2 separate regions of the Homo sapiens genome follow, and region 2 is linked to region 1. Evidence: fine-mapped expression QTL. A gene starts in region 1. The other region holds a variant in brackets. All regions are shown on one strand. Distances are from middle to middle.

Region 1 (16,770 bases):
TATTGCAAATATGCAAAAAGATCTGGAGAAAGACACCTTGAAAACTATGTCACAAGCTCCTTAAGCCCCAGAGGGGCTTTCCCTATACATGTGAAGAAGGATAGTCACCATGGCAAGAAAGTTGACCAGGTGACATCTATAGGGTCAGATTTGAGAAGCACAGCAGAGAACCACCAGCATGAAAGCTGAAATCTCACCATTTGAGAGCCACCCTTCTGGATGATGTTAAGTAGATGACAGTTTCAAAGACTCTATAAATACTAATTAACTGACTCTTAATATGGGCACCCTCAGGGACAGGTGCTACTCATTACCCCCTCTCCACAGCCAAGATTTGTCTTATGTTGAATCACATCTCTTAAGCACCAGGCTAAGTATTAGCTCTGTAGTATGTCAGAGCCATAAAGACATTCAAACCCACAGCCTCAGTTTTTAGCCATTACACCACTCTACCACTTCTTTGAGTATCCAGAGGACAGCTACTAAAATACCACCATCACTGAAATAGTATTGAATGATAGTTATCCATCATCAACACCTTAGCAGGAATTCAGTTTCAAGTCTGATTTTCAATCTAACACAAAAGAATCAGTTGGGCAGGGTTATACCCAAGCTCTGAGCACCAAGGGGCAGAATAAATGGATCCAGCATCTAAAGTAAATGTGCCCCGTGGTAATGGAGGGGAGGAGGTGCACAGAGGGCACATTCTGATTTTATGTCTGGAATGAATGGGAGCTATAAAGTGAACAATCATTAAGCAGGATTTTAGGGCCATATTTCATCTGTGCTGCCTTGGCTAAGACACCTAAACCTTTCTATAGTCGAGTTTGCCCATCTATAAACTCAGAGAGCCAGGCAGGCAGCAGCAATGGCAACCCCTGCTCCTCAACCCCCGCCACCACCTTAGTAAAAAGATCACTGGCTTCAAGGTCAGGGAGCCCAGACTCTAACTGGGGTTCAGGCTTTTTGCTAAGTGTGTGTGCATGATCTGGGGCAAGCAATTTAACCTCTCTGAGTTCTAGATCCCTATGTGCACAGCGAGCTAGTAGACATTCTAAAAATACATAGTGCCCAGATAACTGCCCAATTTAAAAAAGAGAAACCAAACATAAGAAAAGAGGCTTGGTTTTTGCGTTAAGAGAACAAGAGGCATGCTCTGAGGCCACAGTAGCAAACAGACAGGGGACAGGCGGTGCTCCTGCTCAAAGGCTGACTTAGCGTTGAGGTCTCCTAAATCATTCTTCCTCGGTCTTCTCTGAAACACGGAGATAACCATACTACATCCAATGGGACAATGGTTAAAAGTGACAGGGGCTCACCTCACAGGCACAAAGTACTATGGAAGTTCCCAGCATGACCACCACCACATAGCCCACTCAAACAGCAATGACAGAAATGCATCTTACATGTGTTCCAGTTCCTTCTGCGTATCCTCCAGGGAAATACCCAGCAACACACATATGCCCCTTCCAATGGCACTAATCTGCTCTCCTCCAACTAGAAAGGAACCAAAAGGGAGAGAAGAACTCAGAACCAAACAAGGTCATAAAGCACTTTTAAGTAACCATAGGAGTATTTTAAACATCATACATACTTCTTATAACTTCTTTGGTTAAAGTCAGTACGTATTCGAAAATGAAAAGAGTTACATAAATGCAGTGAGATGATAATAATTCCCATCCATTCTGATTTTATCTCTGGAATGAATGGGAGCTGTAAAGTGAACAACCATTAAGCAGGATCTTAGGGCCATATTTCATCTATGTTACCTTGGGTAAGACACCCAAAATTTTCTATGGTCAAGTTTGCCCATCTATAAAAACAGAACTGTGTTTTCCTCCCCCAGAGAAGCCAGCTCAGCTATATTAATTCTCAGAAAAGAGATTCCTGCCTTTTGCAGAATATCAAAAAATATGGTAACACAGTATACAGGAAGCACAAAGTGGAAAATGTTCATATCATAAATGATTTTCCTACTTACTATGAGGACAAATACATAATACATAAAAATCACAATTTATGTATTAAGCTTCAACTCACCAAACTGCTATTATTTCCCAGTTTAGTTTTGTGGTTACATTCTAAGCCAATGATCTCCAAATATTTTTCAATCATGCATCTTGTCCATTTGAAAAAAAAAAGGCTCTAAGCACACACTCCTAACATTTGTATATGTATTTATAACCAAATGTATGCCCTACTACCACTAGACGATACCTCAAATGGTAGCAAGATGCATCATTATGGGCCGGGCATGGTGGTTTATGCCTGTAATCCCAGCACTTTGGGAGGCTGAGGCAGGCAGTCATATGACGTCAGGAGTTCGAGACCAGCTTGGCCAACATGGCGAAATCCCATCTCTAATAAAAATACAAAAATTAGCCGGGCATGGTGGCGGGCGCCTGTAATCCCAGCTACTCAGGAGGCTGAGGCAGGAGAATCGCTTGAACCCAGAAGGTGGAGATTGCAGTGATCCAAGATCACACCATTGCACTCCAGCCTTCCAGCCTGGGTGACAAGAGTGACTCTCCATCTCAAAAAAAAAAAAAAAAGATGCATCTTTATGATGGAGAATCCCTGTTTTTTTTTTCATTTGTTTTTCTTTTTAAGAGGCAGGATCTCTCTATGTTGTCCAAGCTGGAGTGCAGTGACTATTCACAGGTGCAATTCCACTACTAATCAGCACAGGAGTTCTGACCTGCTCTATGTCCAACCTAGGTTGGTCCATCCCTCCTGATGGTCCTCTGGTCCTGGGAACTCACCATATTGATGCAGAACTTTGGTATGACAGCAGGTCAGCATAGTGTACTATAGCCCAGAACCCCTGGGCTCAAGCAATCCTCCCTGCCTCAGCTTCCAGAGTAGCTGGGACTATGGATGCACGCCATCATACCCAGCTAAATCTGTATTTCAAGTGGTGCTTTTGAAAATTTTCTATTTTTTGCCAATTATTTGCCAATCTTATTAGATTATGTTATTTTACTACTTCATCTTGTACTGACCTAATGTGCTAATCGGAATAGAAGGGTCACCTCAGCCATTTTCTTGCTGTTTGCTTGCTTCTGCAGGGTAATAGCTATAAATATAACTAACACAGTAACATAGACTATGTCATGTTACAATACACTGCTAAAGAAAGGGTGAGAAACTTCCCTCTTTCTTCAGTTGCAATGGCAAGAGACCACCTGCTATTCAGATCCCAGCAGAGCACATCAATCCATTCCTGAAATATCAGTAATGCTTAATTTCTTTATTTTTAGGCTAAAATTTTTTAAATCTTTTCTTCTGTGCTGCTTTTCTTATAATGAACTATGTGTGTGTGACTTATTGTCCTTTGAGCCACTGCCTCAAAAGCTGAAATAGAAATAATCTATCCTGACATAGGCAGTAAACAATTGGGGGTTGGTTTGCTCATTTGCATTGCTTCAGAAAAAGCCTTTGGCTTTATTTGTTCTTTGAATAAATCAACATTACTTTCTTACAATATTGATATACTTTCTAAATTTTTCCCAAAGTATGTTTTAAAAAATAAAGGTCATGAAGTTATATCTATCATCAAAGTAAGGATTATATATTTTAGAAAATATGAGAAACATGAAAAAAAGAACAAAGGTAAGTACTTTAATATTTTAATGATTTCCTTTTAATATTGTATCTATTCATACATTTTAATTCATATTTGTTTTCAACTACTATAATAACATTGCATATAAATTTTTATAATAATATTGCATAAGAATTTTTTCATGTCATAACCTTTTCCTAAACACCTTTTAATAGATTCAGCTCATCAAGTAGACTGATTAACCATTCCATCTTGCTGGACATATGGCTTCTTTCAAAATTTTCACCTCAGTAAATAACAGTGTAGTGAAAATCTTCGTACACTAAAGCCTTTTCTACAGTTAGGATTATCTGCTTAGATTCTAGAATCACTGTCAAAGAATTTTGACAGTTTTATAATTATCTTAACATGAAACAAATTATGGCCCAAAGTCTATATATGACACAGAGACTGCTGTCTTATTTTGGAGCAGTTTTGTCCCCCCTCCAGGGACAAGTAGAAGGACTAGGAGATTCAAAAGGATTTTTTATTATAAGTAAATGGATCACCAAGGGAAAAAATCTGAGAATCACCACTTTGAACAAAAGATCAAAGGGCTGGAAAAGACTGAGATGTTTGGTCAATTTTTCTACCTACTAGTGGCATCAGACCTGAGATCTCTACTTCAAGAATTCATAACCTTTGAAGTTAACCTAGTTAAACCCAAACATTTTAGATCCTCTTCCAACACTGTTCACAGACATCAAATTTTAGCTGCTGACAATGAATGATGGGACATGGGGGTTATTGCCCTATTCCGTCTGTTAATATGTTTGAAATGTGCCATAATAAACTTTTAAAAATTAGATTATCACAGTACCCAACCTAAGGCATCAAAATGTGTTTGATCAAGCTGGGTGCAGTGGCTCATGCCTGTAATCCCAGCACTTTGGGAAGCCGAGGCAGGCAAATCACTTGAGGCCAGGAATTTGAGACCAGCCTAGTCAACATGGCAAAACCCTGTCTCCACTAAAAATACAAAAAAATTAGCCAGGCACAGTGGCGCGCACCTGTAAGACCAGCTACTCAGGACACAGAGGCATGAGAATCGCTTGAACCCAGGAGGCAGAGGCTGCAGTGATCAGAGATGGCACCACTGTACTCCAGCCTCGGCAACAGAGCAAGACTCTCTCAAAACAAAAACAAAACCAATTAGCCAATTGGAGAAATCTGATGGACTGGGCATCAAATGATATTACAGGGTTACTATAAAAAAAAATGTGTTTGACCAATCACATAAATTGAATATACCACATAGTAAAATGTGTGACTCCTAAGCTGGACATAGCGGTGGCGGCACACGCCTGTAGTCTAACTACTCAGGATGCTGAAACTAAAGGATCACTTGAGCCCAAGCGTTTGAGGTTGTAGTAAGCTATAATAGTGCCACTGCACTCCAGCCTGGGTGACAGAGCAAGACCCCATCTCTAAAACAAACAAACCATAAATGCATAAATTTAAAATAAATGTGAAGTCAACCAACTATTTTAAAATAAAATAAAATGTGTGACTCCTGATAATCTATGCTGTCCTGACCATAAAACAGGAAGTTAACATTTTAGAACCCCTAAAATAAAATGCCATTCAAACACAGCCACATTTCAGTGAAACCAGCCACATTTTAAAGGAATCAGAAAATCCCTTTCCATTACAATGCAACTAGAAGGCCTGCATAAGTGGAGGGCCCTTCTAACAGAATTCCACAGTTCCCCAACCCAGAATTCCCGAATTATTTACACTTTCCCATAATTAACACCCTTATCTTTTTTAATATGCAGGTTTGGTTGTTTTAACTGAAAGCATATAACTTAAATAGTGAACCAAAATAACCCAAACTCTTATTCAGCACATCTCACAGAATACACATTTTCAATATTCCAGATTAGCAGGATGGAGAGTTCAGGAGAGAGATCAAAATTTAAATCTGTCAGTGACGACCACACACAGCAGCAGACTGCAAGGTTCTTCTCAATAATGCAAAACATCTTTCATCTATGAATTTTCCCAGTTTTCATGAATTTAAATATCTACAGAAATGTTATAAAAGCTTTAAAATTCCTAAATCCCAGTGCTACTCTATTCCCTATTATTCCAGGACCATTTCCAAAACCAAAGCTACCAGAACAGCTTAGAAATCATTAGGCGGGGTTGAAAAATAGACTCTTAGATTTAAATATACGGTTTTGGTGGGTTTGGTTGTTTCTTTAGGGTTTTTTGTTGTTTTTGTTTTGTTTTGTTTTTTGTTTTGGGGTTTTGTTTGTTTGTTGTTTTTTGAGACAGAGTCTCGCTCTGTCGCCCAGGCTGGAGGTTACTGGCACAATCTCGGCTCACTGCAACCTCTGCCTCCCGGGTTCAAGCGATTCTCCTACCTCAGCCTCCCGAGTAGCTGGGATTATAGGCACCAACCACCGCTCCCGGCTAATTTTTGTATTTGTAGTAGAGATAGGGTTTCTCTATGTTGGCCAGGCTGGTCTCGAACTCCTGGCCTCAGGTGATCTGCCCGCCTTGGCCTCCCAAAGAGCTGGGATTACAGGTGTGAGCCACAGCCCCCGGCCTGTTTTGTTTTTAATTCATACTTTTGTGGACACAAGAACGCATATTTGGTGCAGACTGGCTCCAAGGACAGGATATCTGAAATTATTTGAACTGAAACAATATAGTTGTGCCAATAAAGACAGAAAAGACTAAAGACAATATAAAGCTTGTCATTTAAATGTTTTTTAAAAAATATCTTTCGTACCGTGGTTTTCTTAAAACGACTACTTTATCTACACTAATCATCTGGACCTCTGATGCCCAACCGAGACGAAAGTGCTGAGTGATGACCAGGGGTCGGGTAGCTTGGTCCACAAGAAAAAGAGAAATGTTTTCATCTTGAATTCTTTAGATCCCGACCCCTCCGCGCAGAGTTCAGCGGGCGAGGGCGAGGGGCGTCCTGGGCAGGGGGCGCCCCTCATCCAGCCTAGGCTCCAGTCACGTACGTGCACGCAACTGTCAAAGCTCAGCCCAAGGAGCAACTCTCCGCATCTGTGCATTTCATCCTGAGTCAAGCCCCATAAAAATTGGAATACGTAAAAATGGGCAAAAATTGAACATTTAAAATACAGCAGTGAAAAGGGAGGAGTGCCTGCTCCGGAAATGCTCTAAGCGTGGTTCATCAACACTCCCTGAAGAGCGGACCACGGAGATGCTCCGAGGCTCCGCCATCCCGCACGCAGGACAAAGGTGCTGAGAATGAGGCGCGCTGGTCCTGCACCCTCTGCCGAGAGCCGGAAGCCAGGGGCGCGCCGGGGCCGGTCGGGCACGTGCAGGGGGCTCTCCGGCCGCCGCGCTGCCCCGAAGCCGGCCCTGGGGACTCGCGGCTGCGCGGACCGAGCTCGCGAAGGGGACCAGGCTCGCGGAGGGGCCGCAGCGGCCCCAAGGATGGCGCAGGAAGACCCCCCACGCAAGACAGCCGGTCGCGGGGGTCAGGGGCGGCTCCTCCCGGGCCCGGCCCCGCCCGACTGACCTGTGACGCTGGCCCGGGTGACGCGCTGCACCACGGCCTTCATGGCGGCGGCTGGGGCGAGTGGGGCGGCGCCGCGCTGCGTCCGGCCTCGCGACTCTGAGGGCGGCTCCGCAGCCGGCGCCCTCTGGAGGTGACACCCGGAAGCGCGCCCAACTGGCCGGTCCGACTCGGTCGGCTGCTACCCACCCCACGTCGGCCACGCCCACTCTCGGCCTGGCGATAGGCCCACCCACTCATAGATTGACTCCGCCTATGCCTGCCACGCCCACCTGCTGCCCAACCGTAACCCCGCCCGTCATTGAAAAGCCCAGTCCCCACGCTCGGCCCTGCCCCATCCACATCTGGGTCCCGCCAGAGCCCTTTGATCCCCCCATCCCGGGCCCAGCCCCTACCCAGTGCCCAGAACCCACTCTGCCCCGAAGGTAGTCTCTATGCTGGTTTTTTTCTCCCACATACCCGAACCTAAGAACCCGTCATCACTAAGCCTTTAAATTCAGCCTGAATCCTATTTCTAATTGTATTCCTCTTTCCTCTTCCACTCCTCTGCACGCAGATCCTCCCAAATTCTTCTTCCTTGTCTTCCTGCCTCAGTGGCTTTTCAGATACCACATACAAAAGGATCTGCTGCCTAAAATAGCCATTTACCTATCTCACTATTAATTCGACTTAGCCATGTCATGATAATAAATAGGTATGTGATTCTAGAATTCTAATTTCTCATGTAATATAAATGCTACTAATTGGCCCCCTCACTGGGTTGTTAGATTTAAATGAACCAAACCACGTAAAAGTGCTTAGATGGCAGCAAAGGGCTGTACAACTATTACCCCAACAAATTATTATCATTGCTAAAAATAATTCCATCTCAGCAGTCTTCACCTTAAAGGTGACTAATAGCATTGGTGGGCGTAGAAAAGGCACTGAAATTGAGAAGAAACCCTCACTTGCCCAGAAAAGACTACAAACTAGTGTGCTTGTTTGTTAAATACTGAATACTAAATTGCCTTAATAACGTTGTCAAAGTTAACATAACCAGTAACAAGACATCATGTGCCTCCTGATATTGCACTGGGAAGGACACAACATCAATCTTGTGGTATTTCTGCCAAATAATGTATAACCTGAATCCAATCATGATGAAACATAGGACAAAAATAAATTGAGGAACATTCTACAAAATAACCAGGTAGGATTCCGAGAATTAAGGAGGATTTTTTTTTTTTTTTTTTTTGAGATGCAGTTTTGCTCTTGTGGCCCAGGCTGAAGTGCAATGGTGTGATCTTGGCTATCCACAACTTCTGCCTCCTGGGTTCAAGCAATTCTTCTGCCTCAACCTCCTGAGTAGCTGGGATTACAAGCATGCGCCGCCACGCCCGGCTAATTTTGTATTTTTATTAAAGATGAGATTTCTCCATGTTGGTCAGGCTGGTCTCGAACTCCCGACCTCAGGTGATCTGCCCGCTTTGGCCTCCCAAAGTGCTGGGATTACAGGCATGAGCCACTGCGCCCAGCCGTGGACTTTTTAAAAGACAGGAAAACTACCTGTAATCCCAGCACTTTGGGAGGTCAAGGTGGGCGGATCATTGGAGGTCAGGAGTTCGAGGCCTGCCTGGCCAACATGGTGAAACCCCGTCTCTACTAAAAATACAAAAATTAGCCAGGCATGGCAGCGCATGCCTGTAATCCCAGCTACTCGGGAGGCTGAGGCAAGAAAATTGCTTGAACCCGGGAGGCGGAGGTTACGGTGAGCCGATATCGTGCCACTGCACTCCAGCCTGGGTGACAAAGCAAGACTCTGTCTCAAAAAAAAAAAAAAAAAAAAAAAAGACAGGAAAACTAAATTAACCTGGGTGGTATCCTGGCCAGAAAAATCAAGAAAAGGAAAAGCTTATTATTGGAACAACTGGTAAAATTTGAGTTTTTGAAAAATCAGCAGGTCTCAATATTTTGATCACAGGATCCCTTTACATTCTTAAAAATTATTGGGCACAAAGTATAGCTTTTGTTTAGGTGGATTATATCTAAAAATGTTTACTGTTTTTAACTAAGAGAAATAGTTAACATGGATTTATCAATGCATTTAAAAATAGCAATAATAAATCCCCTACATATGAATATCAGAGCAATGAAGTCACTATATGTCACGGAGCCCCTGGAAAACTCCATTGTGCACTCCTGAAAGAATAAGACTAAAAAAGGGAAAATTGGGCTGGTCGTGGTGGTTCACGCCTGTAATTCCAGCACTTTGGGAGGCTGAGGCAGGTGGATCACTTGAGGTCAGGAGTTCAAGACCAGCCTGGCCAACATGGTGAAACCCCATCTCTACTAAAAATACAAAAATTAGCCAGGCGTGATGGTGGGCACCTATAATCCCAGCTACTTGGGAGGCTGAGGCACAGGAATCACTTGAAACCGAGAGGCGGAGGTTGCAGTGAGCCAGGATCACTGCCACTGCACTCCAGCCTGGGTGACAAAGTAAACCTGTGTCTCAAAAAAAAAAAAAAAAGTTAACATACTTAAAATGGAATTCAAAATGTTCACCCCTATGGTACAATAAAGACTTTGGCCTTTGTTAATTCTGGGTTTCTGGCATGGAGCTTTAAAAATTCTTGGAATTTCTCAAGAGACAGGAGTATCTTTGTTATTCATGAGCTCCTTGATTATTCCTGAGTTTACTAACAAGACAATTCAGATTGGGAGCTGGTCACTGGAAAGACCAATAGTGACTGGATGTCTGAGCCAGCCCAACCTGTGGGAGGGGTAGAAGACAGAGATTGAGTTCAACCTGTGGCCAATGATTCAATCAGTCATGCTTACATGATGAAATCCCAGGAAAGACTCTGGACATTGAAGCTTCATTGAGCTTCCTGGTTGCTGAACACATTGATGTGCTGGGAGGGTAATGGCCCTGATTCCGCAGGGAGAAAGCACAGAGGCTCTGTGTTTGGTACTCTCGCAGACCTTGCCTAACATATCTCATTTGACTGGTCCTAATTTGTATTATTTATAATAAAACTATAAATGATAATTACAGCACTTTCCTCAGTTCCATGAGTGATTCTAGTGCATTATCAACCCTAGGGAGTCATGGATACTCCTGACTGTGTAGCCAGTTGGTCTGAAGTGCAAGTGGTTTGGGGACACCCAAGTGTGGTTGGCACCTGAAATAGGGGCAATCTTTTTGGGAAACGTACCCTTAAACTTGCAGGATCTGTTCTAACTCCAGGTGATTCCTGCCAGAGTTGAACTGCAATTCACCAGTTGGTGTTCAATGAACCCCGAAGCCCTTCATACTCCACCATAAGAGTCATACCTTTTTTTTTTTTTTTTTTTTTGGAGACAGAGTCTCGCTCTGTCACCCAGGCTGGAGTGCAATGGCTCGTTCTGGCTCACTGCAACCTCCACCTTCCAGGCTCAAGTGATTCTCCTGCCTCAGACTTCTGAGTAGCTGGGATTACAGGTGCTGCCACCATGCCCAGCTAATTTTTGTATTTTTAGTAGAGATGGGGTTTCACCATGTTGGCCAGGCTGTTCTCAAACTCCTCACCTCAAGTAATCCGCCTGCCGTGGCCTCCCAAAGTGCTGGGATTACAGGCATGGGCCATCGCACCTGGAAAATCCCCACTTAAATAAGTGGCTCCACTTGTTTACTGGAGCCAGAAGTAACCTGTGATTGCTCTCTTCCCCATTCCCTAAGTATCTCGTCCATCAGCAAATCTTCTCCCTCTCCAAAACCTATCCCAAAGTGCCCTCTTCTCTCCATCCCTCCTGCAGCATCCTGCTCCACCATTCTTTCCCACTTGGATTTCTACCACACCTTCCTCACTGGTCTTCCTACCTCCCCTTTGTCCTTCTCCAATCCATTCTCCAGGCACAGATGAAAGTGATGCTCTTAGAATATAAAGTCTTAACAATCCAGACTCTGACCACCTTTAAATTCCTCAAATAGTCTTTGGTTGCTAGCTCAGGACTTTAGGATCTGCTCTTGCTCCACCTGGAACAGGTAGGTTCCTCTACATTCATTCACTCTTTGTACAACACACTCCTCTCCTGCCTTTAGGTATTCAGCTTCAATGCCACCTCCTCAGATAGACCTTCTCTGTCCACACCAAGAAAAGTAGGTGTTCCTGCTCCCTGTTTTTCTCATGTTTGTCCTGTGGGTTTTCTCTCATAATCTTCTGGCTACTTTCAATGAGTCTATTTGCCTGGTAAGCTGTGTTCTTCTACCTGTGTCTCTCATGCTTACCACTGAATCCTCAGCATCTAACACAGTACCTGGGGCTCAGGTAATATTGCCAAAGGAATAAGTGTGAGAAGCCAATTTTTTGGCTTAACAGTGTATCATGGATTTACAGTATTTCTCTATTAATAGATGTGCAGATGCTAAGAGCTAATATATGCATTGTAATTCCCCTAAACAATTTTTTCTATTGACGAATATTTAGGTCTGGATCAGTTGGGATGTTTTTTCGTTGCATGGAACTCAAAATGGCTCAAACTTTTAAGAAATGTGTTATTTCCGAGTAGCTGGGCCTACAGGCGCCTGCCACCATGCCCTGCTAAGGCAGGAGAATGGCGTGAACCCAGGAGGCGGAGTTTGCAGTGAGCCGAGATCATGCCACTGCACTCCAGCCTGAGCAACAGAGTGAGACTCCATTTCAAAAAAAGAAATGTGTTATTTCATTGGAACCTTTGTGCACTTTTTTTTTTTTTTTTTTAGATGGAGTCTCGCTCTGTCACCCAGGCTGGAGTGCAGCGGCACAATCTTGGCTCACTGCAACCTCCGCCTCCCAGGTTCAAGCGATTCTCCTGCCTCAGCCTGCTGAGTAGCTGAAATTACAGGCGCGCGCCACCACATCCGGCTAATTTTTGTATTTTTAGTAGTGACAGGGTTTCACCATGTTGGTCAGGCTGGTCTCAAACTCCTGACCTTGTGATCCACCCACCTCGGCCTCCCAAAGTGCTGGGATTACAGATGTGAGCCACCATGCCCAGCCCTCCTTGTGCACTATTGATAGGACTGTAAAATGGTGCAGCTGCTATAGAAAACAATATGGAGGTTTCTCAAAAAATAAAAAATAGAAGTAATAACCCAGCAACCATATAATCCAGCAATCCTACTGCTGAGTATATGTGCAAAAGAATTGAAAGTAGGTTCTCAAAGAATATTTGAACATCCATGTTCAAAGCTGCACTATTCGTAATGATTAAGAGGTGGAGGCAACTCAAATGCCTGTTGACAAATGAATGGATAAACAAATATAGTATATCCATACAGTGGAATATTATCCAGCCTTAATAAGAAGGAAATCTTGTCAAATGCTACAATATGGATGAATCTTAAGGACACTATGCTACTTGAAATAAGTCAGTCACAAAAAAAGGCAAATACTGTATGATTCCACTTACATGAGATATCTGAAGTAGTCAAATTCACAGAAACAGAAAGATGAATGGTGGTTACTAGCGGCTGGGGGGTGGAGAAAGGGAATTGTTGTTTGATGGGTACAGAATTTCAGATTTGCAAGATTAAAAAGGTCTGGAGATCTGTTTCACAACAATGTCAATATGCTTCACACTACTGAACTGCACACATAAAATGGTTAACATGGTAAATTGTATGTTGTGTGCTTTGTGCCACGAGAAGAAAAAAAGGAAAAAGAGAAAGAAGAAATATATTTGACCTGACAAGGCAGCTCCAAAGTTAACCAAGATCAGGAACCCAGTTCTTTCCCTCTTTCTGCTCTGTCACCCCAGCATGTTGGCTTTTCTCGGGCACCCCACAAGCCTGAGAGATGGCTGTGGCTGTTCTAGGCACCCCACCCAGACACAATGTCCTGATGAACAGCAGACCATCTCTTCCTGGCCCTTCCACTGAAGCTAGGATATCTTGCTCAGAGGCCCTCCTACTTAACTCGCCAGGATGAGGTCACACCACCATGCTTATGCGAATTACTGGTAAGGGAGACGGGGCATACTCTCACCCAAGACTGGCTCAGACAAGAGGTTCTCACCTGCAGGGGAGACAGTTCTCCAGGGTGCACGAGATGTGTGTACGGAGGAAAATCTGGACCTGGGAGGCTGTTGGTAGCATTCAGTGTCCAGGGGACTTGAAATTCTCAAGCTCTTGCAACACCTGGGGCAGCCTACAGAATGGATCATCCTGTCCACAATGCCAGCAGTGCCATCTTTGAGAAATACTGACATGGACCAATCAGGACTTGCCCTCTGGAGCTAGGCTAGTCCCCCTGAAGCACATGGTGGGGTGGATTGAGGGGTCTGTTATAAAGCAGGAATGGGGGAAGTGGATGTTGGGAAGACAGCCGGGAGTGTCTCTCAAAAGGTTGATTTCAGTTCGGTGTCATTTTGAACAAGTTACAATGAAGAACCTTCTGCCTACAGCTCTTCATTTATCTCTTTAAGTTCTTGAAAGTGGGATTGCTGGGTGAAAGGTTGTGCCCATTTTCCTTTTTGATACACACTGCTAAACTGGCCTGCTGAAGTATGTTAACACCAATGTAGGCCAGGTGCAGTGGTTCACATCTGTAATCCCAGCACTTTGGGAGGCTGAGGCGGGAGGATCACTTGAAGCCAGGAGTTCGAGACTGGTCTGGGCAAAATGACAAGACTGTCTCTACAAAAAAAATTTAAAGTTAGCCAGGCATGGGTGTGTGTGCCTGTAGCTCCAGCTACTCAGGAGGATGAGGCAGAGGATCGCTTGAGCCCAGGAGTTCAAGGCTACAGTGAGCTATAATGCCTGGGTCACAGAGCAAGACCCTGTCACTATTAAAAAAAAAAAAAAATATATATATATATATAGATATAGATATATAGATATATATTCCTACTTTCAAAGGACAGGCAAGTATTGATGGGAAGAGTAATTGCCTGGGTTACCATAGTGAAGAAAGCAACACAGATGGAGGACTACAGAAGACTGGATTTATAAGAAAGAAGGAGGCCAGCCATGGTGCCTCACACTTGTAATCCCAGCACTTTAGGAGGCTGAAGCAGGAGGATTATTTGAGCCCAGGGGTTTGAGACCACCCTGGGCAACATAGCAAAATCTAGTGTCCACAGACAAAAAAAGAAAGAAAGAAGGTATTGCACATCTGGCTTTCAGGAATGTCTAAAACATACTTTACTCCTAAGAACAATGGCATGTGCAAGTGAAGTGCTTGAGCATACACAAAGAACTTTCTCATTTGAGAGACATAACGCCGTTAGTGAACAAGCAGATACATACTCTTCTTCAAAAGGCATGGATGCTCAGAAAACGCAGGTGATTCTTCTGCCATGGAAAGATAGGTTCACTTTTTTTGTTGTTGTTGTTGAGACGGAGCCTCACTCTGTCTCCCAGGCTGGAGTGCAGTGGTTTGATCTCAGCTCACTGCAACCTCCACCTCCCCAGTTCAAGCGATTCTCCTGCCTCAGCCTCCTGAGTAGCTGGGATACAGGCGTGCGCCATCACGCCTGGCTTATTTTTGTATTTTTAGTAGATACGTGGTTTCGCCATGTTGGCCAGGCTGGTCTCAAACTCCTGACCTCAGATGATCCACCCACCTCAGCCTCCCAAAGTGCTCGGATTACAGGCATGAGCCACCATGCCTAGCCAGGTTTGCTTTTTAAAAATAAATTAAGGAGGAGGTGTAATGTGCTTACAGCAACAGAAACTGTAACAGACTCAAGTAACAATGGCTTAAACTACATAGAAGTTGATTCTTTCTCTCATAAATTCCTGGGCTAGGATGGTACTCCACAGGCCACAGAACTGAATTATTTCTGCTTTGTTGTTCTACCATCCATCATTCATCTGAGTGGTCCGAGATGGCTCATGGGGGAAAGGGACATCAGAAAGGGACGGACATGTCCATGACTGCACTCAGCGCTCTTGCTCAGACTCCCTTAGAAACAGGGCCCCACTCCCTGAGAAAGAAGCTGGGCCATGATTCAATGAGGCCTCAGACTTGGGTAAATACTCCTGTGGAAGTATTTGCCATGCTAATGAAGTAACTTTTTCCAGTCATTTTATTTTATTTTGAGACCTGGTTTCACTCCGTTGCCTCAGCTGGAGTTCAGTGTCATGATCTCAGCTCACTGCTGCCTCTGACTCCTGGGTTCAAGAGATTCTCCCACCTCAGCCTCTCAAGTAGCTGGGACAACAGACATGCACCACCATGACCAGCTACGTTTTTTGTATTTTTGGTAGAGACAGGGCTTCACCATTTTTCCCAGGCAGGCCTTTAATTCCTGAGCTCCAGCCATCCACCCCCCTTGCCCTCCCAAAGTGCTGGGATTACAGGTGTGCGCCACTGTGCCCAGCCGCAATCATTTTAAATAGAAAATATTATTGACCTAATATAAATCTGACATGAATAACTATTTACACAGTCCCTATGAATTATGAATCTAATAATTATTTTCCTGTTCCTACAGGGTGATGACTATTGAAGGTACTCCATAGACGTGATATGAATATGTGAATGAATAAGTGAAGGAAGAAAGAGTGAAAAAATTGAACTGCCTAGCTTGTGTTCCTGCTTCTGAATTAGTTGTACTATGGGAGACATCATCTGTTTAATACTAATATCTGAGCCAGGCACAGTGTCTCACGCCTGTAATCCCAGCACTTTGGGAGGCCGAGGCGGGAGGATCACTTGAGGTCAGGAACTTGAGACCAGCCTGGCCAACATGGTGAAACCCCATCTCTACTAAAAATACAAATATTAGCCAGGTGTGGTGCGCATGCCTCTAATCCCAGCTATTTGGGAGGCTGAGGCAGGAGAATCGCTTGAACCCCAGAAGGCGGAGGTTGCAGAGGCAAGATCACACCACTGCACTCTCCAGCCTGGGCAACAGAGAGAGACTCCATCTCAAAAAAAAAAAAAAAAAAAAAAAAAAAAACAGAAACAATACTAATATCTGGATATAGCTTTTTCCTTTGCCACTAGAATAAAATATATTTAATACTAAAGTTCCCTTTGTGTATTCAACCTTTCTTTGATGATACAAGACGCTGCTGTATCCCAAGTCATCTACCACCACTCCATTAGATAGCAAATACATAAAGCCAGTGGGTACAATGTGTGGCCAAACTGCTACTTACCCTAAATCCACTTCACTTTTGTTCTTAATAGAGCCCTGATGGTAGTTTCTGACTTGTTCTCTGGCTCTCACGAAAGCATGAAACATCCTGGTAACTGGAGCACTCTGGCATTTGGATTTTAGAAAAGTAAAAAGTCTTCCGTGTTTCTTTTCAAAACGTATAGTCAATACCTCCGTTTCTTTGCTTTATGAGAGGAAGTTCATATGGTGCCAAAAGCTTAGACTTTGGTGCCAGAAAAACCACGGCTTCTGTGCTAGCTCTGCCACTTTCTATATGACCTTAGGAAATGTGACTTAGCCTGATTCAGCTTCAGTCTTCTTATCTGTTAAGTGCGGATAATATCTTGTCTTCATGATTGCAGTGAGGAGTAAATATAACACAGGAGCACTCAAAAAACAATCTTGCAGCAAACAATCTAAGTATATTTTCACAACCACACAGATATGATTGGGCCATGTCTGTCATTTTGGAAATGATGATAGGTCATATAATTAATCTTAAAAGTCTAATTCAGGCAGTTAAAGCAGAGCTCCCCAGAGGGTTGAAAGCCCA
Region 2 (16,770 bases), 160 kb before region 1:
AAACTACTTTAAAGTTCATATGGAACCAAAAAAGAGCCCGCATTGCCAAGTCAATCCTAAGCCAAAAGAACAAAGCTGGAGGCATCACACTACCTGACTTCAAACTATACTACAAGGCTACAGTAACCAAAACAGCATGGTACTGGTACCAAAACAGAGATATAGACCAATGGAACAGAGCAGAGTCCTCAGAAATAATTCCACACATCTACAACTATCTGATCTTTGACAAAACTGACAAAAACAAGAAATGGGGAAAGGATTTCCTATTTAATAAATGGTGCTGGGAAAACTGGCTAGCCATATGTAGAAAGCTGAAACTGGATCCCTTCCTTATACCTTATACAAAATTAATTCAAGATGGATTAAAGACTTAAATGTTAGCCATAAAACCATAAAAACCCTAGAAGAAAACCTAGGCAATACAATTCAGGACATAGGCATGGGCAAGGACTTCATGTCTAAAACACCAAAAGCAATGGCAACAAAAGCCAAAATTGACAAATGGGATCTAATTAAACTAAAGAGCTTCTGCACAGCAAAAGAAACTACCATCAGAGTGAACAGGCAACCTACAAAGTGGGAGAAAATTTTTGCAGTGTACTCAACTGAGAAACGGCTAATATCCAGAATCTACAATGAACTTAAACAAATTTACAAGAAAAAACAAACAACCCCATCAAAAAGTGGGCGAAGGATATGAACAGACACTTCTCAAAAGAAGACATTTATGCAGCCAAAAGACACATGAAAAAATGCTCATCATCACTGGCCATCAGAGAAATGCAAATCAAAACCACAATGAGATACCATCTCACACCAGTTAGAATGGTGATCATTCAAAAGTCAGGAAACGACAGGGGCTGGAGAGGATGTGGAGAAATAGGAACACTTTTACACTGTTGGTGGGACTGTAAACTAGTTCAACCATTGTGGAAGTCAGTGTGGCGATTCCTCAGGGATCTAGAACTAGAAATACCATTTGACCCAGCCATCCCATTACTGGGTATATACCCAAAGGATTATAAAACATGCTGCTATAAAGACATATGCACACGTATGTTTATTGCGGCACTATTCACAATAGTAAAGACTTGGAACCAACCCAAATGTCCAACAATGATAGACTGGATTAAGAAAATGTGGCACATATACACCATGGAATACTATGCAACCATAAAAAATGATGAGTTCATGTCCTTTGTAGGGACACGGATGAAGCTGGAAACCATCATTCTCAGCAAACTATCGCCAAGGACAAAAAACCAAACACCGCATGTTCTCACTCATAGGTGGGAACTGAACAATGAGAACACATGGACACAGGAAGGGGAACATCACACACTGGGGCCTGTTGTGGGGTCGGGGGAGAGGGGAGGGATAGCATTAGGAGATATACCTAATGTTAAATGACGAGTTAACGGTGCAGCATACCAACATGGCACATGTATACATATGTAACAAACCTGCACGTTGTGCACATGGACCTAAAACTTAAAGTATAATAAAAAAATAATAATAATCATAGAATGATAAGGTGGCAGATGACTTTTATTTTCTTCTTCGGGTATTTTGGCATTTTTGATATTTTCTATGAGTGAGCATTAACTTTGTAATAAAAAAAATGGCTTTCAAAAGAAATGTTATATGAGAAAGATGATTTAGGAATTTCTATTCCCTACTAGAGAAACACAGAACTGGAAGGGATCCTGAGAGGTTTTGGCCAATGGGTTCTTAAAGTTTTTAGGTAAACTTCCTAGGCATAAGAACTTTATAAAGCATCTAACCTGAAGGACAATCCATTAGGTATGCCTTTAGAATTAACTGTGCTACTACTGGGAACACTAATGGGCTGGCCTAATCATAAGATCAATGTTAGTATCATGAGTGATTTGTAAACTACATGCAAGAGATTTTTGGCCAGCAGTGGACACTGTTCCAGCTGAAAGCCACCGCCCACTACAATACATGGATTGGTCAATAGACGTTGCTCTCTATTTCTAGTCTCACTTGCTAAAGATGTCTCTTCCTATTTTCTTGAACTATAGAATAACCCAGGAGCCAGGTTACTGGCCATCAACTGGGAGTAGCTGGAGACCACGCAGCTCACATAGCTGGAAGCTTGAATGAGGAAGGTGGGAGTGAGCTATCTGTGAGGTCCATCTGCCAAATTAGAAGTGCTGAGCAGAAGTCCTGTTCAAGCTAAACACATGGTTCTCCAGAAAAGGGTGGACCATTGAGGCTTGAAATTCAGAAACCCTGGATAAGGGGTAATGTGCCTCCCTCTAAGAGCTACTGAAGGGATGATGTCTATTTCCAAACGCATGTGCGTCACATGAGCTACTGAGGGCAGACATGACCCAGAGGCTGGGGACACCTGACAGGCAGTAGTAAGAGGTGCCTGATAACTTAGCACCACAATTTCATAGTCTTATGAAAGAAGCTAGGGGAACCACCAGTTTCCTCCACCTGCTGTAGTAGTTCTCTTACTGCCGTCAACCACGAGGGACAGTGAGGAACATCTCCAGTGAGGCCAGACCAGGACCAGAAGAAAGGAAACCCTTCACAGCCCACGTAAACACTGAAACCCTCAAAGACACTGACTTCCAACTGACCTGCTTCTGGCTTCAGGCCATTTAAGCAACCACAGGATGCAAGTGCTAGACAAAACACACACATGCCACAGATCTGTTCTCCACATCACTGTTAAAAGGACCAAGATTTTTTTTTTTTACCTATTTATTTCAGGTCTTAGCTGGTAATCAAATCAGAATTCATTTACCTAGAAAGGTAAGGCTGTTCTATGCAAAAAACATGAGAGATGCTGGGAAGTTATCAATGCAGGCTTCACTCTGACCTTCTAGCACTGTTAGATTCCAGCAAGCTCCCTCCACTGAAGTGTCAAAAGATCCCCAGAATCGGAATCTCTTCCTTTGCTTGAGAGCTGATGGTCCTGACTTCACAGATAGAACATGAAAAGAATGATTTCCTAATTACGAATGGAAAGCTTAATGCAATGCAATAAAACAAGCATGGAGAAAAAATTGATGTTACCTGAAAGTGGTAGGAACAAACCTTGACAGCAATTGGCTTTTATTTTTTGGCTTTAACTTATTCTCCCATCTATTATTTCTCATGTATATTGTACTTATTTATATATCAACGTCTTTTTTTTTTTTTTTGAGACAGAGTTTCGCTTCATTGCCCAGGCTGGAGTGCAGTGGCGCGATCTCAGTTCACTGCAACCTCTGCCTCCTTGGTTCAAGCGATTCTCCTGTCTCAGCCTCCTGAGTAGCTAGGATTACAGGCGTACACTACCACACCTGGCTAATTTTTGTATTTTTTGTAGAGACGGGGTTTCACCATGTTGGGCAGGCTGATCTTGAACTCCTGACCTCAGGTGATCCACCCGCCTCGGCCTCCCAAAATGCTGGGATTACAGGCATAAGCCACCACACCCAGCCAATGTCAATCTTATAGTACTTAAAGTGATTCAGATGACAGTATCAAAATCATAACTTGATCCCTACAGGTTGGTGCTGTTTAGTTGAATTTTCTGCAATGATAGAATAGCAGCCACTAGCTGTATGTAGCTAGTGAGCACTTGAAATATGGCTACTGAGACTGAGAAAGTGAATTTTAAATTTTATTTAATTTTAATTTACATCTCAATAGCCACATGCAGTTAGTAGCTACTGTATTAGATGGCACACTCTAAATTATTTGTAAGCCTGGCTCTGCACCTTAGCAATAGATGGAATCACTAATCATGGCCAGTTATTTTCTAATCAATAAGGTAATGGCCAATTTATTTTCTAATAAATAAGGTAATGGAGGTGGAAGCCTGGGCATAGAGAAAATCCAGTCCCACTACTAGTAAAGTAATATAACATGCTACTCTGCATCAGTGAGGAAGCAAACCAACCTCATGGATAATAAAAAACCAGAATGACACTTAAGGTTTGGGAACAGTAACCTCCAGGTAAGAAGAAGAATGGGGCAGACAAAAATATTTGAATAGATATTACTTAAAATGTCCCAAATGTACTGAAAGCCATACAGTTACAGATTCAAGGTCAGCGGACCCAAAAAGATCCCCAGAATCAGACTGGGACTATGATACAGATGTTGGAATTATCAGACAGGGAACTTTTTAAAACTATGATTAATATGTTAAGGGCTCTAATGAAAAAGTAAACAATATGCAAGAACAGATAGGTAATGTAAGCAGAGAGACGGAAACTCCAAGAAAGAAACAAAAGGAAATAATAGAAATCAGAAACACTGTAACAGAAATGAAGGATGCCTCTGATGGGCTCATGAATAAACTGGACACAGCCAAGGAAGAATCAGTGAGCTCAAAGATAGGTCATTACAAACTTTCCCAACCAAAAACAAAGAGAAAAAGAATGAGAAAAAAAGAACAGACTATCCAAGACTGTAGAGCAATTGCAAAAGATGTACCATATATATAATTGGAATACCAAAAGGAGAAGAGAGAACAGAGAGGAAATTGTGAATGAAGCTAGGGGTATTGAAGTATTAATGGCCAAGAGCTTTCCAAACTTAATAACAGACATCAAATCACAGATCCAAGAAGCTCAGAAAATACCAAGCAAGAACCACACCTAGGCACGTCATATCCAAACTGCGGAAAACCAAAGACAAAATTTTGAAGAAGCTGGGGGCTGGGGGTGGGGTAAGGAGAACCCACCTTACCTATAGAGCAATAAGAATGAGAATTACAGGGGACTTCTCATAAGAAACTGCAAACAAGGAGAGAGAGGAATAAAAATTTAAGTATTGAAAATATTTAAATATTTCTTTTTCTCTCATGCCTTGGAAACTCAAAGCTGCTCCTCTAGGGCTGTGAGGCTCCTAGGGCTCTTTGTGTTTTTAAAGAAAGGCAAATTAAAACAACAACAACAACAACAACAAAAAAAAAAAACTACAAGTCTAGAAGTCTATACCAGCAAAATTATCCTTCAAAAACAAAGGCCGGCCATGGTGGCTCACTCCTGTAATCCCAGCACTTTGGGAGGCTGAGGTGTGTGGATCACTTGCGGCCAGCAGTTCAAAAGCAACCTGGCCAACATGTTAAAACCCTATCTCTACAAAAAATACAAAAAATTAGCCAGGCATGTTGGTGCATGCCTTTAATCTCAGCTACTAGGGAGGCTGAGGCACAAGAATCGCTTGAACCTGGGAGGTGGAGGATGCAGTGAGCAGGGATTGCACCACTGCACTCCAGCCTGGGTGACAGAGTGAATGAGACTCCACCTCAAAAAAAAAAAAAGACTATTTAAGTTAATGATAGTGACAATGTATTAGGTGAGTATCACATATGTAAAGTGAAATGAATGATAGCAATGTCACTGGGAATATGCTGTTGTTATAAGGTGCCTGTTACAGGTAAAGTGGTAGAGTGTCATTCAAGGTGGACTTAGACTAGTTAAAAATGTATATTGTAAACTCCAGGGCAACCACTAAAAAAATTGTTTTAAGTTAAAAAAAGATAAAAACACTACCCAGAGACACAGCTAGTTTTATACCATGAAATACCAGCACATGGACATGAGAATGTGGTACAAATGTTGATACAGGGAAGCAAAGTGAAGCTCAGAGAATGAAAGGAGTCCTACCTTGTATGGCGAAAAGAACAGTGAAAAGGGACTGAATACCTTTTCAACAGAAAACACACACCCACACACACACACACACACACGGCTGCTGTAGCTCATTAGGAAGAAGTGTGCTCAGCCAGGACACATCTTACTATTCAGACAAAGGTCACATTGAAAAAGCAAACAGATGGCAGCTTCCAAAACACTTTCTTGTTTGGTTTCAAGTGTGTTGCCATTTGAGGACAGAAATGTGGGGTGCCAGTCAGGAGCACACTCCTCTCACACCCTAATTACAGCAGCTAAGTCAATACTCAAATGAGGTAATACTTGACCCTGCAATCAAATCAGAAACCACATCATTTTAGTGAGAGGTGGCCCTAGTGCCTTTAGCAGTGGCCAGAAAGGAGAAATAATAGAGCTGCATCCTCACAGAAAACCTCAACTCCTCCCAGCAAGGTGAGAGAGCCCGAAGGATTGAGACAGAGGACAAAAACACAGTTAATTTTAGCAGTTTCATGTCCACTTGGTAAAATAAGAAGCAACATTTGCAATGTGACAGAGAAATGTCAAGGCCCTGGAAATGTCCTCTGAACCATGAAGGCTTTTGAATCATTTTCAAAGAAAAATATGCCCAAGATCATGCAGTTTCTCATTCAATTTTCTTTTGCCTTTTCTTTCTCTCTCGTGCCTTGGAAACTCAAAGCTGCTCCCCTTAGGGCCTGCCAGATTCCCTAGGGCTCTTTCTGTATTTAAAGAAAAGCAAATGAAAAGTGCTACTCCCTTCATAGTGAGGGGGCTGCTGTTGTTCTGGGGAACAAAACAAATGTCAGGGTCACCTTCTGTCTGTCACCATTTAATCCAGCTCTCATAGATATCTGAATATTTGGTGGTGATTTTGTGGCCTACTGGGATGACAAATTTCATCAGAAGGGGGAACAAAACCCACGGGCAACAAAAAACCCCAAATATATCATTGGAATGCCAGCTGTCACTTGGTTCTGGTCCCGTTTAGGATCTTCAAATCCAGGAACATGGCTAAATTCTCGGAAGCAGGAGCACCCAGCCCCGCTCTGGTCCTCGGCTAGTTGTGGGCGGCTCTGAAGGACTCCTCCCTGCCTGGACATCTGTCCATGCCTGACACCGTCACTGCTGACCCTGACGTAAAGAAGAACAACTGGATGCCTATGGTAAACCATCAATAAATGGTTTTCCTTGTGCGCTTTGTCCAAAACCCAGACAGTACCATATACATCGGTATAAACAAAACGTGGCCTCTGTCTTTCATGGGCCGATCTAAACTTGTTCATGAGCCTCCATGCGCTGAGTAGCAATAGGGGCGTTCCTGACCAGACAGAGGCTCCATTTCACCTTAATGTCAACAGTACTCTGGGTCCTCAGTGTCCTCTGTGGCAGGGTGGTTGGTGCAGCTCAGCACCTGGGCCCTGACACTGCACCACTGAGGGACGGTGGGCTACTTGAAGTTTGGTGTCTCTTGCTCAGGGACCCAAGGCCCTCTCTGGCTGACCTGGCCTCGTCTCAGTTCTCACCAGCATATCTCACTCAGTCTCAGGTGTCATTAATGACAGACCCCTGCAAGTCTCATCCAGGAGGCCAGTGGAGGTCACAGCTGAGACCTGGAGGGACTGTCAGTGCTATGAAGAGCTGAGGCCATGACCCCCAACCTCCTAATGAAGCTGCCCCCTCATGGCTTCTGCAGCAGGCTCACCTCACCACTTCTATCCAGGACCGAGAGTCAGCCCACAGACCCAACACAGCTTTCCTCCACACCCTCCACCAGGCAGAGAACACCCTCTGGAGCCTTCCCCACCCCACGGCGATGCTGAGCAGCACTCTCACAGGCCCTGAGGCCTGACCGTGTCTTGCTACCTCACTGGGCTGCAGCTGCCTCCTGGAGCCCTGGAGCCACCTGCACTGCTCTCCCTCCAGAATCCCTGTCACGGCTTCCAAGTTTCCTGCAACCCAACCCCCATTCCCCCACTCCAAGGATCCCAGCCTGGAGCACAGCCAGAACATGCCAGGGGCCTTCAGCTTCCCCTCCATCTGTCCCTCTGCTCCTTCCCGCTGAGTCTCCTAACCTGAAGGCTGAGGCCAGCCAGGAACTTCCCTCCATTGCCCTCTTCCTCCTCTTTTGCCTGCCTCTTCCCAAGGGCCCCATGATGGCATGGCTGCAGTGAACTTGACTTATAGGGAAGG[G/A]GAAGGAAAAACACAACTGCCTCCTCCTTTCCAAACACTTCCCGTGGGGTCTGCTCCCCCTGCTGCCTCCCCTCTGTGGCTGGCCCTATTTGGGTGATTCACAATAGCACCACTGACCCCAAGTTCTATGCTACCTAATCTGCACTACCGTGAGAAGGAAATAAATACATTATTAAAATGTCATTAACGTGAGAGAAGCAAGAAGTAGATACCTACGAGTCCATGAGAATTCCCCTCGTAAACTTAGACACTGGGGAAAAATGTGAAATGTTCACACCCTCCTCCTGCCCTTCTTTTTATGTGCTCAGTTCTCCTTCTATGAGCGTGTTCTCCTGTATGTTCTGTGACACATGCAGTAACTGTCCCCTTGTCTGCCCATGAGACCCTCGGGTGTTTTTCTTGCCCACAGAATTAGCAGAATTACTCCCAGGCTACCCAGGGGCCACAGAACACTAACATCCATGGTGTATTCTCTACAGGAATTACTCTGAGGCCAAATCTAAAGCAAATGGAAGTCTTTAAGTTGTTATGTTTTGCATGAATTTTAAAAGTAACAAAACTCAATACCCCGTCATAGATTAAACCAAAGATTTTCAAAGCACTGATCAGATATAAAGCAAAAATCAAGACATTAAATTTATAAAATGTATTAGGTTAATAATACAACCCAGGAAGGAATCAGCTAGGTGGTATTTGAATTTTTTAAGCTGTTTTGAAAATACAAACCTCCAAGGCACATGTGAATTTGTATTTGTGTGTGTGTGTGTGTGTGTGTGTATGCGTGCCAGTGTGTTTAGCTTGATAATCTGGGTCTGGTTGCTGGGAGACAGGGGCTTGTATGTTTCTCCCTCTCCCGTTCATTAAGTTCATGATGGGAGTCTGAACATTCAAGTTGTTTTTTTGTTTTGTTTTGTTCGTTTGTTTGTTTGTTTTTGAGATGGAGTCTCACTCTGTCGCCAGGCTGGAGTGCAGTAGCGCAATCTTGGCTCACTGCAACCTCCACCTCCTGGGTTCAAGAGATTCTCCTGCCTCAGCCTTCTGAGTAGCTGAGACTACAGGTGCGCATCACCATGCCCAGCTAATTTTTTTTTTTTTTGTATTTTTTATAGAGACGGAGTTTCACCATATTGGCCAGATGGTCTCGATCTCTTGACCTCGTGATCCGCCTGCCTGGGCCTCCCAAAGTGCTGGGATTACAGGCGTGAGCCACCATGCCCAGCCCAAGTTGTTTTGAACCTGTTGTTAAGGTCCCAATTCACTGCAGGAAAGACTATTAAGTACAGTCTTCAACAGAACTGGAAGAAGAGACATGGGCCATGCCTGAGCATTAAGGCTGGGAAGCTGCCCTGAACCCCAGGAGTGGAAACTGGAGTGTCCAATCTGAGTTTTGCTTCTGGACCAAGTAATTACTAAAACTTGGCCTAACCAGTAACAGTCCCTGCACCTTTCATTCAAGGAACAGGAGCAGCGCTGGGATGCTCTCTCTGTCATGCTTCCCTGTGATCCAGAGAAGCCTGAGAAAACACAGAAACATGGCGGGGAGGGAACATGCCTGCCCCCGCCCTGCCCAGGCTGCTGGGGCCAGTTCCAGGCACCATGACTTCTACCTGCCTGCCTTCCACAAAGCACTGCTGACGGAGATGAGTTTTCCTCCAATAGAAGAAAAACCATAGAACTTACTCACTGTCACCCAAAAGTTAGCAGGATGGAAAGAAGACCTCGATGAGTTTCTGAATTACTGCTTGACCCATTTAACTAGCACAACTGAAAAAGTATCTTAAAGGGCCACTCTGTGCCCTGTCTTCACTTAGCACATTTCACCTCTTTGGATTAAGGATTTCTGGACAGACTATAAATCAGAAGCACCAGCAATATTTGTGATGCCAAAACTGACCACTAACAAAAGTGAATTATCATGAAGTTTTGGAGGGGTGGGAGTGGAAGTTTTATGTGACGTCCCTTCCCTTCGAGGCACCCTTCAGTGTCCCATGCATACGTGAGATACATAAGCCAAGGCTGGTCACCACAGTGCTGTTGTCTCCCTGCACAACACTAGCAGGAAAACACAGTGATGAGGGAACAGTTAAGAGGACAACAGGACTCACTGTCCAGTCCCCTCCCCTAAAACTGTCTATGAACCAACAATCCACCCTTCCTGAGCTCTCCATTCTGTTCCTCTCGTCTGTGTATCCATTTGGGAGCTGGTGCCACTGTGCCCAATTACAACTAATGTATCTTTTTTAAATTTTATTTTTAAGAGTCAGGGTCTCACTCTGTCACCCAGGCTGGAGTGCAGTGCTGCAATCATGGCTCACTGCAGCCTCCAACTCCCAAACTCAAGCAATCCTCCCACCTCAGCTTTCTGAGTAGCTAGGATGATAGGCAAGCACCACCATGCTCAGCTAATTTTTTTTTTTAAGAGACGGGGGTCTCACCATGTTGCCCAGGCTGGTCTCAAACTCTTGGGTTCGAGTGATTCTCTCACTTCAACCTCCCAAAGTGCTAGGATTACAGGTGTAAGCCACCACACCTGGCCTAATATATCTCACTTCCTGGTATTGTGGATCCTAAAAGCCATTTCATAGGTACACTTCTGACCCTTGCTCTCTTTCAGAAGAGAAAGAGAAGGCTGAAAACCACCTTCTGGATGTTCTTCTATCATAATTTGGTGTCTCTTGGGTGAATTCTGTCTCCTAACTTGGTTTTAACCACAGTCTGTGAGCTGAAGGCTCCAAATTGTATGTCCGAGACCTGGCTCCCCAGCTCTAAAGCCACAGACTCAGCAGACGACTGGCATCACCATTGGCTGCCAACAGGCACCTCAAACACAACACACCCAAAATAGGTACCGTCAGCAACCCCCATCTTCCTCCCTCATCCTTCTGGATGTCTCCTCTTCCAATCTAATCAGTCACCACGTTGAAATGATTCTATTTCCTTTACATCTTTCAATCCCACTCTTTCCCCTCTGTTCCTACTATAATTTTTTCTCTGGACTTCTGCAATCACCTCCTAATGGGCCTATCTGCTTCCAGCCTCACTCCCCAAAGCTGCTCAAGTGAGTGCTCTTTTTAAACTTTGTATCTGATGATGTCACTTGTACACTTAAAACCTTTCAGAGGTCCCTCCCGCCCCAGGATAAAATCCAAATTCCTCAGGGTTGCATACCAGACCCTATACAATCCAGACCTCCTATTTCTCTAAGTTCAGAGATGCTCCCTGCCCTCCCACTCCACTTGGCACTCAACACTCCCACCCTTCTGCAATTCCTCCATTCCCAAACTCTCCTGTCCTTGCCCCCCAACCTCCAGATGGCATTTGCACTGCTCTTCTCTTGGCTCAGGCAGCTCTCCCCTGCCCTTGCCCCTCATCTGCCTCCCCACTGCCACCTGTCCTTCCAGATCTGGTCCCAGGCCTCTGAGGGGCCTCTCCTGACCTCCCATCTCCACCCCACACCTGTTCACACTCCTGCCACACGCACCGTGCTGTAGTATAACTGTTCCTATGCTTCTCCCTGAGCCTGTGACCTCCCCATGACAGGTCCTGGGTCCCTCAAATCTGCACCCAGTATTTGGTCCAGTGCTTGGCAAAATAAACAGGTTCCCTGGTGGGAGGAACTAGGCACAGTGCCATCAGATGGCCGCATCACATTTTCAAGGCCTCTGATGTTCAGGCAGGGAGGTGGACTCCGTGCTACAGTGAGCCACAATAAGAATAAAATGCCATTTTAGGAAAAGTAAACTCACAGTGCCACACGGGGCACTGTGAAGGATTTCAGAACACGGGGCAGGTGGCAATGAAAGTAGGCTGCTGAGATGGCAGTGCCCTTTGCTAGAGTGGCTAAGAGCAGGAAGGGAGATGCAGGAGCGCAAGTGGACTCTGCATCTGCATCTGGATTCTGTATCGGTGAGTGAGTGTTCTGCACAGGCAATCACAGCAGCAGCTGTGGACTGGCACAGGCAGCCAGAGAAGGTGGCACAAACAGGTTCCACCCCCAGGTGGGCACCCCAGGCCTGTGGTATGCCACCCTCCTGCATCTCAATGAATAAAATACAATCTTATTTGCTAACTGATATGGTTTGGCTGTGTCCCCACCCAAATCTCATCTTGAATTGTAGCTCCCATAATTCCCACGTAGGAACACACACGTGGAAATTATGGGAACTACAATTCAAGATGAGGGGCCTGGTGGGAGGTAACTGAATCATGGGGGCAGTTTCCCCCATACTGTTCTCTTGGTAGTGAACAAGTCTCACAAGAGCTGATGGTTTTATAAGGGGAAACCCCTTTCACTTGTTTTTTGTTTTTTTTTTTTGAGATGGAGTCTTGCTCTGTCACCAGGCTGGAGTGCTTGACCCTTATACTCTCTTGCCTGCCGCCATGTAAGAAATGCCTTTTGCCTTCAACCATGATTGTGAGGCCTCCCCAGCCACGTGGAACTGCGAGTCCATTAAACTTCTTTATCTTTATAAATTACTCAGTCTCAGGTATGTCTTTATCAGCAGCGTGAAAACGGACTAACACACTAACTTTTGTCTCCATCCTGGAAGGCAGCAGATTTAAGGAAGCTATGGATGAACGCTGTGAAATGAATGAATTCAGCCTCAGCAGCTATTCCCTCCTATTCATTGCTGCTTCCCCAAAATGTGGGAAGATGAAGCCAAGCAGGGAAACTCCTACCTGAATTCTGCCTCCTGAGCTACGGCTCCCGTTCAGAGGACACGTCGCCCTCAGCCCCGCTGCTGGCACTGCGGTCTTCTTTTCGGGGAGTGTTTCTTTCCTTGCTTGATTCAGAAGGTCCCTTAGCTCTGGTCTTTTCTTTCCTCTGCTGCTGTTTTTCGAGCTTTGACAGCTGATTAAATAAAAATAAAAAAGAATATTTTACAAACACAAACACATGCCTGTGTATCCCACACACCAGTGACTTCCCAGGTGGGAACCATTGAAAAGTTTTTTTCTGATAACCTGGCAGAGCACAGTGGTTCAGATATACCAAATTATACACAGAATGTTTTTCCAACAGGCACCTGAATCACTGAAACAAATCATTAGTCATAGGAGTAATCACTCTCAGACTTTTCCCCAACCATAATTCAACTTGGCACACAGTATGAGGGAGCGGTCATGCCACAGCCTTCTTCAACAGCCTTAGAAGAGCTCCATATATGAAGGCTTTTCATCTCTTACTTTTTTCTTTGATAGTTTTTTTTCTCATCAAGTTACCTTCTACTTGTTGTTTTCTTTTTTCTTTTCTTTTCTTTTTTTTTTTTTTTTTTTTGAGACAGGGTCTCACTCTGTTGCCCAGGCTGAAGTACAGTGGTGCGGTCACAGTTCACTGCAGCCTCAACCTCCTGGGTTCAAGTGATCCTCCCACCTCAACCTCTCAAGTATCTGTGACTACAGGTGCATGCCAATTTTTCTGTAGAAACAGAGTTTCACCATGTTGCCCAAGCTGTTCTTGAACTCCTGGGCTCAAGCAACCCACCCACCTCGGCCTCCCAAAGTGTTGTGATTACAGGTGTGAGCCACCATGCCACACCACGTGTTTTCTAAAGAATGTTCAAAACACATTACTCTTTGCTGAAGATTACAGAGAAGGCTGTGAAACAAAGTGCATTAAGCACACTGAACACCGTCTCAGTTACCAGTTGATTTGAGACTGAAGGCTGACTTGCTTGCAGGCTGCGTGGTGGCAACACTCAGGACACTGGCCACTAGAGCCTTCTTAGGCTCCCACCAGGCCAGCAGGGGACATGCCCCTGATGTCTCACTCGAATGGAACCTGGGCCCACTTCTTCCCTGAATAGTTCTTCAAAGAAAGCATCAGCTAGATGGCTGAAAGAAGCTTCCATCATCTAACACTGAGCAGCAGCCCAGCCACTACAGGAAAGCCTGCTGAGAAACCCAGCAGAGAAGACCGGCCAAGTTTTGAACCACGGAATTTTCTTAGACCAAAAAACACAAGAGACAGCAATACCCAGTTTTATCTCCCTCCCAGACTAAGTCTGTGAACTTTTTCTAGTTTACATAAAAAGAAGGAAACTTATTGAAGGGCTGGCTTCTCCCTGCTGGTCCCTGCCCCACATCCAAGACACAAAGAGGATTCACTTCCCCCAATCTGCCAGATCATTTCTTCCACTATGAACAGACTTTGAGTTAACCCTTCGAGAGATGAACAACCAACCAGTAGCTCTCAATTGGGTCCAGGAAATCAAATTTATTAATAATTGACTTATAGTAGTGGTCCCCAACATTTTTGGCACCAGGGACCGGTTTTATAGAAGACAATTTTTCTGTGAGATGGGGGACAGAAGAGGGGATGGTTTCAGGATGAAACTGTTCCATCTCAGAGCATCAGACATTGGTGAGATTCTCATAAGAAGCCTGCAACCTAGATCCCCCGCATGCACAGTTCACAATGGGGTTCCCGCTCCTATGAGAATCTAAGGCCACTGCTGATCTGACAGGAGGCGGAGCTCAGGTGATAATGCTCGTTCATAGGCTGCTCACCTCCTGCTGTGCAGACTAGTTCCTAACAGGCCACAGGGATTAGTACCGGTCCCTGGCCTGGGGGTTGAGGACCCCTGGCTTATTCTTTCCTACTCCCCATTTACCTGAAAAGCTGTAGAATACAGCTAAGTTTGGTTAATATACTAATTAGATTTTGTGAATGAAGACATCACTTCACCTTTGACTCAGCAACTCTCCTCCGAAAACTCCCCTGGATAAATTTCCACTTGTGTGCACAGTGGGGGCTTCTGAGAACATGGACTGTAGTGTCATTTGTATTTGCAAAAACCTAGAAACAACCCAAATGTCCATCAACATTAGGAGGACAGATACGTGTAATGTGGTCTGGTCCCCTAAAGCAATATTGTACAGTAGATCTACATATATCAAAATAGCCAAGTCTTGGTCAGAGGTGGTGGCTCATGCCTGCAATAGCGGCACTTTAGGAGACCAAGGTGGGCGACTGCTTGGGCTCAGGAGTTTGAGACCAGCCTGGGCAACATAGAGAGACCCTGTCTCTACAAAAAAAAAAAAAAAAAAAAAATACAAAGGTTAGCCAGGCGTGGTGGCACATGCCTGTAGTCCCAGCTACTGGGGAGGCTGAGACGGGAGGATCGCTTGAGCCCAGCAAGCAGAGGTTACAGTAAGTTGAGATCATGTCACTGCACTCCAGCCTGGGTGACAGAGGAAGACTGTCTCAAAAAAAATTTTTTTTAATTAAAAAAAATAGATAAATCTTGAAAATCATGTTATACAAAACAAATTTAGCTTCAGAAGGCTATATACAGTAGGATTCCACTAACACAAAATAATACTCTACATAGCTAGTGAGCTCATGCAAATACAGTATGGCCTGGAAGAATACACGCCAACTTCAATACACTAGTTAACATGGAGGGGAAAGAGGATAATGGGATCTTAGTGGAATGAATATATACAGGCTTCAACTGTAACCATCAACTTTATAAGAACAAAACCAGATCTAGAGCAGAGTTACTAATCAGTGCACTCCACAAAATGCACGTGACACCTGGACCAGCAACAGTAAGATGCTCGTGTCAGAATGTAAATCAGTACATAGCTTCCTTCATCAGCAAAGTATTGTGAGAGATTTCTTCTCAACTGTGAGCTCTGTGGTGTAGCTGACTTCATTCTGGCCCAAAATGAAGGTTGCAGTGAGCCGAGATCACGCCACTGCACTCCAGTCTGGGTGACAGTGAGTGTGCATACACATATACACACATATATAAATACTCATGAACAGGTCCAAGTTAGATGCTGAGAAAGTACAATTTTAGTTTTAAAAAGTAAGATGCCGTCTCAGTTTTGTTCTTTGTTTCGCCATGGCCTGGTAACAAACAGTTCATGCAGCAGCACTTTAAGTAGGAATGAATGATCTGGAGCAAAGATGACAAAAAGCTAGCATTTTTAAAATCTGAGAAATGGCCACACAGAGCTGCTTGTTACATAGTTCTTTGTAGTATTACTTTTCCATGGAAAAATATTTTTCTCTTGACTATTCTGCCACAGGTTAGGAGGAATTTCCTGCATCTAAAATAACAGGCTTCTTTCCTTTCGTCTGTCTTCTGGTATTAAAATGCTCTTTCTTTGATGAAATGATAAGGACAGTATACAGGACTCCTTCTGTCTCATTCCCTTTCTTGCAAACAGATTTTGGATTTTTGCAATGTGGATATACCCATTACTACTAAGCTATACACTTAAAATGGTTAAGATGGTAAGTTTTATGTGTATTTTACTATAATTTAAAAAATTAAGCAATTTTGGAAATCATAAGTTAGCAATCCATGCTAGACTCCCCAATTTCTTTTTGTTTTCTATATTCCTGATTCATAAAATCCAAATATCTTGAAATTGGTGTTCTGCAGTAAATTGTGGTAAGCTGCCTTCTGCTGCCAGCAATTGACATTTTATATTCGCATCCATGTGTTCATACTTGTATGTCTTACTTGTGTGTAGATGCATACACATATACACACATATATAAATACTCATGAACAGGTCCAAATTAGATGCTGAGAAAGTACAATTTTTAAAAAGCAAGATGCCCTCTCAGTTTTGTTTCTCATCTTCAGAGATTAAAAACAAAACAAAACAAAACAAAAAAAAAACAAAATGTGAATATCAACAGTCACAAAATTAAATAAACCTCCTCCCCCTTGCTAAGTAATCTCATGCAAAGGCCTCTTTGTGACCCAGCCTGTTCTTCACTTTGTACTCTTTTATGCTATTGAGAACCAGATCCAGAGAGGACGATGGGGAGTAACCCCAATTAGCACAGCCCTCTGGAGGCTTCTCAGCTCCTCGTAGTGTCATTCGACTCTGTGCTGAGGCAGAGGCACAGACACCACAGATGCAGAAACATCCATCTGACCTTCCCCTCCAACCCTATCCCCTCCCA

What was found.
Region 2: its variant is fine-mapped to the expression of DTD1 in whole blood (TOPMed, PIP above 0.99).

Annotation. Positions count from the first base shown.
Region 1 is chr20:18,578,458-18,595,227 of GRCh38, reverse strand. DTD1 (D-aminoacyl-tRNA deacylase 1) reads right to left here and starts at 7,174. Exons shown (of 6, transcript NM_080820.6): 1 at 7,113-7,174; 2 at 1,407-1,497. The coding sequence starts at 7,155. It overlaps LOC124904878 (a long non-coding RNA gene), which reads left to right and starts at 7,763. Exons shown (of 3, transcript XR_007067547.1): 1 at 7,763-7,803; 2 at 10,984-11,115; 3 at 15,549-15,629. It also overlaps the pseudogene RN7SL638P. RefSeq lists enhancers at 6,638-6,697, 6,538-7,037, 9,709-10,003 and a silencer at 6,808-7,347.
Region 2 is chr20:18,740,020-18,756,789 of GRCh38, reverse strand. It overlaps DTD1 (D-aminoacyl-tRNA deacylase 1), which reads right to left. Exons shown (of 6, transcript NM_080820.6): 5 at 12,519-12,690. The coding sequence ends at 12,538. Among named protein-coding and RNA genes, the nearest start is that of LCDR, 46 kb to the left of the region's middle. The variant G/A (reference allele first, on the strand shown) is at 7,839.